Linked DNA regions of Homo sapiens. The protein of the gene in region 1 interacts with the protein of each later gene in a pairwise test. Each region holds a gene or a part of one and is shown on either strand. Other genes may lie near its edges.

Evidence for each region.
Region 2: the proteins of NEK7 (region 1) and DNASE1L1 interact in binary tests that used the Homo sapiens proteins (3 or more experiments, as listed by UniProt).
Region 3: the proteins of NEK7 (region 1) and PRAM1 interact in binary tests that used the Homo sapiens proteins (3 or more experiments, as listed by UniProt).

What each region holds. Positions count from the first base shown.
Region 1 is NC_000001.11:198,292,900-198,296,630, reverse strand, and holds part of NEK7 (serine/threonine-protein kinase Nek7), read right to left. Parts: exon of another isoform or gene 3,693-3,731; intron 3,687-3,692; coding exon 3,592-3,686; intron 1-3,591. UniProt on the Homo sapiens protein: Protein kinase which plays an important role in mitotic cell cycle progression. Required for microtubule nucleation activity of the centrosome, robust mitotic spindle formation and cytokinesis.
Region 2 is NC_000023.11:154,400,736-154,403,495, reverse strand, and holds the end of DNASE1L1 (deoxyribonuclease-1-like 1 precursor), read left to right. Parts: intron 1-114; coding exon 115-227; intron 228-305; coding exon 306-554; intron 555-654; coding exon 655-789; 3' UTR 790-2,260; downstream 2,261-2,760. Other genes in the region: RPL10 (large ribosomal subunit protein uL16), read right to left, coding at 2,473-2,760.
Region 3 is NC_000019.10:8,492,556-8,496,286, reverse strand, and holds part of PRAM1 (PML-RARA-regulated adapter molecule 1), read left to right. Parts: intron 1-3,731. UniProt on the Homo sapiens protein: May be involved in myeloid differentiation. May be involved in integrin signaling in neutrophils. Binds to PtdIns(4)P.

The DNA.
Region 1 (3,731 bases):
CAGTCTTTTCAATTTAAATGCAATAACTGATCCCCAAATAGTTTACAATGAATTAGAACTCTTTTGATAATGTCTCAAAAACATTAAATTAAATATGTTCAAAAGCTCTATGAGTCATAGCTGTAATTCAAGGCTTCCAAATGAGATTTTTATGCAGAAAAACACGACCCAAAGGATGAACAACTTTAAAAAAGACATTATCGAATTTAAATTTATTTTAAGACAAGGTTCTAACTTGACATTTAAAGTGCAAGCAAGTACTGTGGTAAGCAGTGTTACAAACTAAAAATTCAATTTAAAATGTTCGCATCCTGTTCAAAACCTTCTAAATCTTTGAACCACAGCAGCAAGAATACAACACGGAGTGCCAGGCTGCCCCAAAGTCAGTCACCCTTTTCTACATGTGCTAATAAGTTTGATTTTGGAAGGACAATGTGTACATTCCCCAGACAGGCAGAGTGTGTGTGAAACACGCTAGTCCATGCTGTGCTACTCAGTGAGCGTCAGTGGGGACAGGACAAGCTGAAAATGGCTCTCATCTGTCTTCTGTGCTCCAGACAGAGCTTTAACTCCTTCAGAGCCTTGATGAGAAGGGGATGGGATTGGAAATCAAAACTGGAAAGTAGCTCAACACATTTTTATCTTGCCTATGTTTTACATAAAACGTGCACACAACTATATAGAAGTACCTTAGGAAGAGTTGTTTCACATGACGAGAAAAAAGTTAAAAACAATCTGAATGCCCCTAATCATATAAAACACTCTGAGAGGAAATTTCTAAAAGAACCACAATAATAATAATAATAATAATAATAATAATAATAGTGGTTTTTGTTTTAAATGCAAGGACACTTTAAGATCTTACCTTAAAAATACACTGTATATATAAACTATAGTCTCTCCGTGTTTGCAAAACCTTAAGTAAATGTACATATATTCATTATCATATTCTAGGCGTTCATTATAGTCCTTTTTCTCAGTACTGCAGAGTGTTAAAAAAAAAAAAAATCTGAATGTCCCCTAAGGAGTTAAACAGGAATAGTATATTTTCATGCATCTCCTGCTTTGACAGATGAAAAATGTCAACTGTCCTGTTTTTATTTTCAAGCTTTTGCACTATTCATCTGGTTCATTAGTGCATCTCGATGCTGCCCCTGACAGCTGCTCGCCCTCTCCTCCCAGCAGCTGAATTTTTCAGGCTAATTTGATCCTCCACACTGAGACGATCGCTAGAATGATTGACTTACTCCCTGACCTCCAGGGTCTGACTTTCCTGATTAGTATTCTGGGGGTGTCGGAGGGACGAAAGCCCACTGTCTGTCTTCGGGGCTGGTGGCAGCTCTCTTTTTTTTTGAACTGTAAGCCACCAACCTACAACCCTGTAAGGATGCAATTGCTGCGCTGAACAATAAAGGAAATGTGTAAAACCTACTTTTCCATGTAAAGGTCCGTGTAGCAAAAGCACAGCATCTTGATTTTAATTAGTAAAGTCTACTTTGTTGCATATCAATTAAAACTGTACTGCTAGTTTTTTTTTTTTTTTGAGGTTTCAGGAATATTTGAAAGTCTAATTTTCTGAGTTTAAAATACATTTTCAAAAAAGGCTTCCTACGTCTTCATTGTTAATAGTAATTTTTTAGTGGGTACAATACAAAATACGTGATGTTATGACCAATTTTTAAAAGCCAAACTGTTAGCTATTTCTATTAACAGTACATTGAAACACAACTGAAAGGAAATAGAACATAAATTTAAATTAAAGCTTTAGAAAAATTCTAGTTCTTCTAAAAGATTTGCATGGAGAAATCAAGAAAATGCGTTGAGATGAAAACTAACATTAGCATGATAATACTTTAACTCAAAATCATCCACAATACATATAACTCATGGATGTAGAAATGTCCAAAGATGTTATTTTTATTTTTGTGGCATTTTAAGTCCATACAAAAATGGGACACCGTCTCTCAAAGGCAAATTCAAAATGTGATAAATTATTTCAGTTTTGACATGAGTATGCTAAATCTAAAAGAATTATGCAAACTTCCTCTCAAAAACCACTTACTACCTCAACAGAACTTTTTCTTTTTTATTGCTAAATTTAATCTAGTTATTGGAAACCAATTTGCTGTTTACTTTTAGGGATTTGAAGAGAATATGTTGCTTTGATAATATTAGACTATGGCCTAAAGGAATCTAAGGTTAACTAAACAAATATAAAATATTTTAAATGTACAGAGTGACTAACTTTTAAACATTATAGTAACAATATAAACAATCCAGTTCTTTTTAGGATTGTACCAAATTATTAACAAAATATAACACAGTGAGCGTAATTTCTTGTAATCTCGTGCACATATAAAAACATGTTTTGTTACATTACTGACTCATAATTTTTCATAACAAAAATTATCCAAAGTATGAGTTTATTTAAGAATATTTAAAAATCCTTTCATTTTAAGTAGTTGTTAGTCACTTTAGTAGGAAGGACAAAACAAATAATTTCAGGTTCCTTAAATTAAGGAAATTTGAATCTGCAATGAATAAAATAATAAAAGATCATGACATACATTTTTAAAGAGTCAAAAAACACCTCCTAATGCTCTACTTCCAAGTAATGGTGGTACAATTAAAATAGATGATTTCATCATATATTTCATTTAATTCTGGAGGACAAGAGACAGGAAATATATATAGTAGGAAATGCATTGGTTTCTATTTATCCTCTTTAGACTTCTCTCATATACACAGAGATATGAAAATGATTCCTACACAGGGATATGAAAATGCTTCCATGTATTACATTTCCTCACTTTATTAAAACCTACTTAGATATAGACTAATTTTTAATTAACAGCTTTGACTCGAAGCCTATATTCCTAGGAAAATTATCATTCAATTAAAAAAACAAAATTACAGAAGTCACTAGCTTGAGATACTTTTATACCAACACAGATGTAAAATGTGTTACTAACATGCTTTCTTTTATCCACCCAAATTATTACAGTGCAACATTTCTAGAGGACCTACCTACATGATTCCATCTTCCTTTGATAAATGATCACCAGTAGAACAAAAGAGAGAGTATTTCACTGAGCTTTACCAATACAAATTGTTACTCATGGAAACTAAATTGATAACCTAGAAGAACTATCTGTTTGCATACTATCCTTAATGCTAAATTACACCTGTGTAAAAGTGAAATAAAATATTGATAAAAATATTTACTATACTTTCATATATTAAATCCAATCCATTATGCCACTCCTGTAATGCATGGATCAAGATTTACAGATGTTCAAACGTATATTTTTACAAATGCAAGATATAGAGAAAGGCGTTATATTAACATAAAAGTTAATGCTTTAAAAATAAACTTCTCATCAAAAGAACACAATTTAAAAATATATTAGATGTGTAGGAATGTATAGTTATTAAATTCCATTATACAAAGTTATTAACCCAACGAAAATTCTTCACAATTAAAAAGGTGATTCTTAAACATCCAGAAAAAAGTAAGTATATACTATAAGGATAGAGGAAATATACTAAGTAAAACTGCATCAATATTTGGAATTTATCAACATTACCTACCTCATATAGTAGACAGCCAAGAGACCAGATGTCAGATTTGAAGTTGTATCCATTTTCATGTATTCTCTCTGGAGACATGTAATAAGGCGTACCAACTGCAAAAAAACAAACCAAATAAAGTAAGAGGTATATAAAAATAA
Region 2 (2,760 bases), on another chromosome or scaffold:
TGTGGGAGCAGAAGGGGAGTTCTGGCTGGCTCCACTGGGGGCTTCCTCACCCAGACGGGCTAGGGGGAGAAGGTCCAGGAGTGGATGGCAGCCCTCGGTCCCTGGGCCTTGCAGTCCTTCCCAGCCTGGTGTTGGTCCCGCTGCACACCACTCCTAAGGCCGTAGAGAAGGAGCTGAACGCCCTCTACGATGTGTTTCTGGAGGTCTCCCAGCACTGGCAGAGCAAGGTAGGCCTGGGCAGTTTGTACAGGAGGGACAAGGATAGGGTGGCCCAGCGGCCAGCCTGATGGCTGCTGTGTCTCTAGGACGTGATCCTGCTTGGGGACTTCAATGCTGACTGCGCTTCACTGACCAAAAAGCGCCTGGACAAGCTGGAGCTGCGGACTGAGCCAGGCTTCCACTGGGTGATTGCCGATGGGGAGGACACCACAGTGCGGGCCAGCACCCACTGCACCTATGACCGCGTCGTGCTGCACGGGGAGCGCTGCCGGAGTCTGCTGCACACTGCGGCTGCCTTTGACTTCCCCACGAGCTTCCAGCTCACCGAGGAGGAGGTGAAGGGATGGGGCTGGCATGAGGAGGGAGGGCAGCAGCAGGGTCACAGGGAAGCCCCTCGGCCCCGGGCACTGACACTGCCCCACCACCCATTCCCAGGCCCTCAACATCAGTGACCACTACCCCGTGGAGGTGGAGCTGAAGCTGAGCCAGGCGCACAGCGTCCAGCCTCTCAGCCTCACTGTTCTGTTGCTGCTATCACTCCTGTCCCCTCAGCTGTGCCCTGCTGCCTGAGCGTCCCCCTACCCCCCCAGGGCCTGCTGCCTTTTGGGACTTAAACCCCAGCCTCCCCCGTCCATCCAGCCCTGGGGCTGGGGGGCTTCAACTATAGTTGCCCTGTGACTGTAGTCCACCCCTGCCTGCCTTGTTTGATTTGGCTCTTGTTCTTTGGTTGGGCTTGTGCCTAGATTAGGAGAGGAAGCCAGGGGCCCTGCACTCATGCCACCTGCCAGGTAGTGTAGTATCAGGAGTGGAGACAAAGTGGGCTCTGGGTTGGGGTAGGGGAAGGGAGGGTTCAGAAAGAGGAATGAAGATGTTGTATGACAAGAAGGAAAGTTACTGAGAACAAAAACCCAGATTGGTGAGATAGGACACTTGTGCAGCAGATATGCCAATGGGCCATGTTTATTGTGGATTGGTAAGAATCACCAGGAAACCATTAAGCCCCAATAGCTACAAGGAGGGTGGTTAATCTGCTATATCAAACTCCTTCCCTGAAACCAGCAAACACCGGGAAACATTTTGGCTCATTATAATCCGGTGAACAATGCAGTCAGGCCTGTTATAACCGCTGAGCAGCCACACTCGCACCTCCTGGGTGCTGTAGTCTGTGTTGGTACAGGCTTCTGCATGCCTGGTAAAGTCCAGCCAAGGCTGGTCAAGGCAACATCTCCACACAGAAAATCTGCACCAGTTATGTAAGCTAAAAAGCTGTGTGAACCCAGGTGTCCCGGAAAGGGGCTGCAGGACACAGCAAAATGCCAGCAGCATGCCGGACCCCTCCCTTCCATCCTCCTCTCCAAAGAAGAGAGGTCAGGAAAAACACTGGCTGGGACGCTAGAAGGGTCATGTGTTAACTATAATCACATTTATGGTTTGGAACCATCACCCCAAGGTAAAAAAAAAATAAAAGGTATTCCCAGGTATGTTTGGCAAAATAAAATAAAGGTAATTAAAAACCTAAGAAATGGCTGTAAACTGAGATTACAAAAAACCAGAGGCCTTTTGGGAGCCACAGGCTGGGGGCTGGGGCCAACATACCCCAGCTCTGGGACCAAAAGCCTTTGGAGTCCTGTCCCTGGATACAGATGCTCAGGCCACCCACCTAGCACTCCTCTCATTTTTGCTGCTCCCCCAAAAGCCAGCGCTGTTCTACAATAGTTCAGGTCAGACATCTAAGATCCCCAGGCCAAACCATGCCACACACGTGTCTGTTCCGAGGTCTTGTTACAAATGACCAAAGGTTAGCCTAGACCTTTGGTCAGGTGGTGAAGGCCCTGGGAATGCAGGTTCTAGAAGGGGTGGGGGCATGGGGCCCAGGAGGTTGCTAGAGATAGGAAATGGGGCAAATCGCAGGTGACCTCAGCAGTACCTGGATGATTCCCACCAAGGAGGAATGGCCAAACCAGATGGGTGAGAACAAGCCCAATGTGATGCACACCTACCCTTGCTAAATAAACGCTGCTGGTCAGCCTCTAGCCCACAAGCCCCTCTTGGTCCGCATGTGTTGTAATAAGCAACACAACTGTAGGCTGACCCCAGCCTGGGATTGCAAGGCTTTGCTGCAGCTGTGCTTCATGAAAAGCACTTCAGTGTTTTTCAACCTACTGCCTAGGACCTGGGGAGGTCCAAGTCAAGCTCCAGAGTAGACAACTGACATAAGGCCACCAGTCCCAGCCCTTTGCAGGGTTTGCTGCCTCATGAGCAGGGCTGAGTTGTCAACCTGTTTCTGAAGTGAAAGGGCAATGACCCAAAGGTTCCCAGAGGAAGTTCCTTCCCCGTCAAGAATGTAGATACAAAGACATAGGTGGACAGGAAGTAGAATTTATTGGTGAGTATTAAGAGGGGGGCAGCACATTGGAAGCCCTCATGAGTGCAGGGCCCGCCACTTGTCCAGAGGGCCACGACTGGGGATGTACTTGACCCCACAGCCATCTGGGATGAGCCGCTTTTCAGCCACCATGTCTTCAAATTCATCAGCATTGA
Region 3 (3,731 bases), on another chromosome or scaffold:
GCCCACCACCATGCCTAGTTAATTTTTGTATTTTTAGTAGAGCTGGGGTTTCACTACATTGGCCAGGCTGGCCTTGAACTCCTGACCTCGTGATCCGCCCACCTCAGCCTACCAAAGTGCTGAGATTTCAGGCGTGAGCCACCACGCCCAGCCTGATTTACTTAGACCTGTTGTGTTCAAGGTAGCTGAGGGGATGTCCAGGCAGAACTTGGGCCTGAAACTCAGGGGGAGGTGTGGCCTGCAGGCAGGTGTGGCAGTGGCAGGGGAGGGAGGCTGCCAAAGGTTTCTTAGAAGTTTGTGCTGGGTGAATAGGGAGCAGGCCCGCACCTCCTGCCCAGCTCCACAGTTAATGCCTTCATGAAAACACAAGCAGCTTCCAGGCAAGCACCTTGCCTGCCTGTCCCTAAATCTGTACCCTCCACTCCCTGCATGTCCCTAAATCTGTCCTTAAATCCGTACCCTCCACTCCAAAGTTAATGCCTTCATGAAAACACAAGCAGCTTCCAGGGAAGCACCTTGCCTGCCTGTCCCTAAATCTGTACGCTCCACTCCCTGCATGTCCCTAAATCTGTCCTTAAATCCGTCCTTAAATCCGTACCCTCCACTCCAAAGTTAATGCCTTCATGAAAACACAAGCAGCTTCCAGGCAAGCACCTTGCCTGCCTGTCCCTAAATCCGTACCCTCCACTCCCAAATCCCCACAGGGCAGTAAGGCAATGCACCCCCATTTTACAGATGCACAAGGCTGGCCCGGCGTGGCAGCTCACACCTGTCATCCCAGCAGTTTGGGAGGTCCGGTGGGCGGATCACTTGAGGTCAGGAGTTCCAGACCAGCCTGGCCCGCATGGCAAAAACCCATCTCTACTAAAAATAAAAAAACTAGCTGGGGCCGGGCGTGGTGGCTCACGCCTGTAATCCCAGCACTTTGGGAGGCCGAGGCGGGTGGATCACCTGAGGTCAGGAGTTCGAGACCAGCCTGAACAACATGGAGAAACCCCATCTCTACTAAAAATACAAAAATTCGCCAGGTGTGGTGGTGCGTGCCTGTAGTCCCAGCTACTAGAGAAGCTGAGGCAGGAGAATCGCGTGAACCTGGGAAGGAAGGGTTGCAGTGAGCCAAGATCACGCCATTGGACTCCAGCTTGGGCGACAGAGTGAGACTCAATCTCAAAAAAAAAAATGAGTCGGGCATGGTGGCATGCACCTGTCATCCCAGCTATTCGGAAGGCTGAGGTGGGAGAATTCCTTGAACCCGGGAGGTGGAGGTTGCAGTGAGCTGACATCGCGCCGCTGCACTCCAGCCTGGGTGACAGAGTGAGACTCTGTGTCTGTCTCAGTTGAAAAAAAAAAAAAAGGCCAGGCGCAGTGGCTCACGCCTGTAATCCCAGCACTTTGGGAGGCCAAGGCGGGTGGATTGCCTGATGTCAAGAGTTCAAGACCAGCCTGGCCAACATAGTGAAAACCTGTCTCTACTAAAAATACAAAAAATTAGCTGGGTGTGGTAGCAGGCGCCTGTAATCCCAGCTACTTGGGAGGCTGAGGCAGGAGAATCGCTTGAACCTGGGAGGCAGGGGTTGCAGTAAGCTGAGATCCTGCCATTGCACTCCAGCCTGGGTGACAGAGTGAGACTCCATCTCAAAAAAAAAAAAAGAAAAAAAAATAGGTACGCAAGGTTGAGGCTCTGGGATGGGGCTTGCCCTGGCTTGCACAGCTGGTCCACGAGCTGGATCTGTGGCAGGGCTTTCAGCGGGGGCCAGAGCTTGAGCTTCTAAGGTGCTCCTGCTCTCGCTGACAGCCTCAGAGGGCCTGGGGCAGAGAGGCCCCCTCTGCTTCTCCTGGGCTTTCTCCCTGAGCTTCTTGCAACACCTCCCTGTGAGCACACAGCTTCCTGGTGGGGCCCCTTCTGCTTCCGCTCTAGGGGAGGCTCTGTGGCTTGGGTCTGGGGGCCACCGTTGGGGATGCGGATGGCCAGGAGTGGGGCTGCTGAGCGCCTGGGCTAGTGACAGCCTGCCTCCAACCACTCCCAGAAGCCCTGCTGGAATCCCCCACCTCTTCCGAGGCTAGGAGCATCTGCCTCTCCTCAAACTTCATACAGTCCCCACCCTTGGCCCATTGTTCCTGTCACCAAATAACCTTCTCCCCCTTCCTTGCCAGTCATTTGAGGTTCTGATAGGAAAAAAGAAAAAAGGGGCCGGGCGCGGTGGCTCATGCCTAAAATCCCAGTTCTTTGGGAGGTGGAGGCAGGCGGATCAGTTGAGGTTGGGAGTTCGAGACCAGCCTGGCCAACATGGTGAAACCCCGTCTCTACTAAAAATACAAAAATTAGTTGGACATGGTGTTGCACACCTGTAGTCCCAGCTTCTGGGGAGGCTGAGGTGGGAGGATCGCTTGAATCCAGGAGATGGAGGCTGCAATGAGCCGAGATTGCACCTCTGCACTCCAGCCTGGGCAACAGAACGAGACCCTGTCTCAAGAAAAAAAGAAAAAAAAAAAGGTCCCACTTCCCTGGATCTCCCGCTTCTCAGGAGTGGCGTGGGCTTCTCACTGTGGGTGCAGCTTCTCAAAGGCAGCTTAGGTCTCTTGGGGCCAGGACTCTGGACTCCCCTTTCCCACTGTCTGCCTTACTTGGAGCAGTGGCAGCTCCACTGCAGAGGTTCCTGGAAGGCAGGGGGCTCCTCTGCAGGTGGGGAGAGCCCAGCCTTTCCCAGGGATCTGAGCTGGCCATGCGGGGAAGGCGGGCAGAGGCCTGCTCTGGGTCAGCTGTGGATGAACCAGGGCTGCCTGCATGGCGGTGCCAAGAGGTGCTCTAATGTGGCGGGTTTGCAGGGACCCTGGAGTGCCAAGGTCAGGTTCGCTCCTGGTGGAGTGACTGCTCACGGCCAGGGAAGCCTCTGAGAGGCAGGAGCAGCTGGAGGGGCTGTGTGTTCCAGGTGAGACTGTGGATGGCCATGCCTGGTATCTGGCGGGCACGATTCAGGTGCTGCTCCTTGGGCTGCTTGGAGGGACTACAGGCCTGAAATGTCCGGCGGGATACTTTGAGCCATTCGGAAAGGACATGCTGGGGCTCTGGGTTCTGGATCTTTCACTCACCAGGGTTCCTGGGGCTCCCACCTGAAGCCAATTCCTTGGCCAGCAGGGCTCTGACTTGGGAGCCTGGTCATTTGCCAGGAAGTGGCACAGGGAGACTGGCACCATGGGAGACCCCTCAGTCCAGAGTCTCATCATCAGTCACCAGTCCAGGACGCTTACCCTAGCAGCATCTTTTAAAAATTATTTTTATTTACTATTTTGAGACAGGGTCCTGGTCTGTCGCCCAGGCTGGAGTGCAGCGGCGCCATCTTGACTCACTGCAACCTCCAGCTCCCAGGTTCCGGCGATTCTCCTGCCTCAGCCTCCTGAGTAGCTGGCATTATGGGCGCCCACCACCACACCCGTCTAATTTTTGTATTTTTAGTAGAGACAGGGTTTCACCATGTTGGCCAGGCTGCTGTCAAACTCCTGACCTCAAGTGATCTGCCCGACTTGGCCTCCCAAAGTGCTGGGATGACAGGCATGAGCCACCATGCCTGGCCATGATATTTTACTGTCAACTATCATTGCCCTCCTGTGCAATGGAACACCCAATTTCTTCTTCCTAACTGTAACTTTGTACCCATGGGCCAGCCTCTCCTCATCCTCCCTTCTGCCTTAGTTTTTCACCCAAATCTCATTACAGTAGAACCCCAGAACCT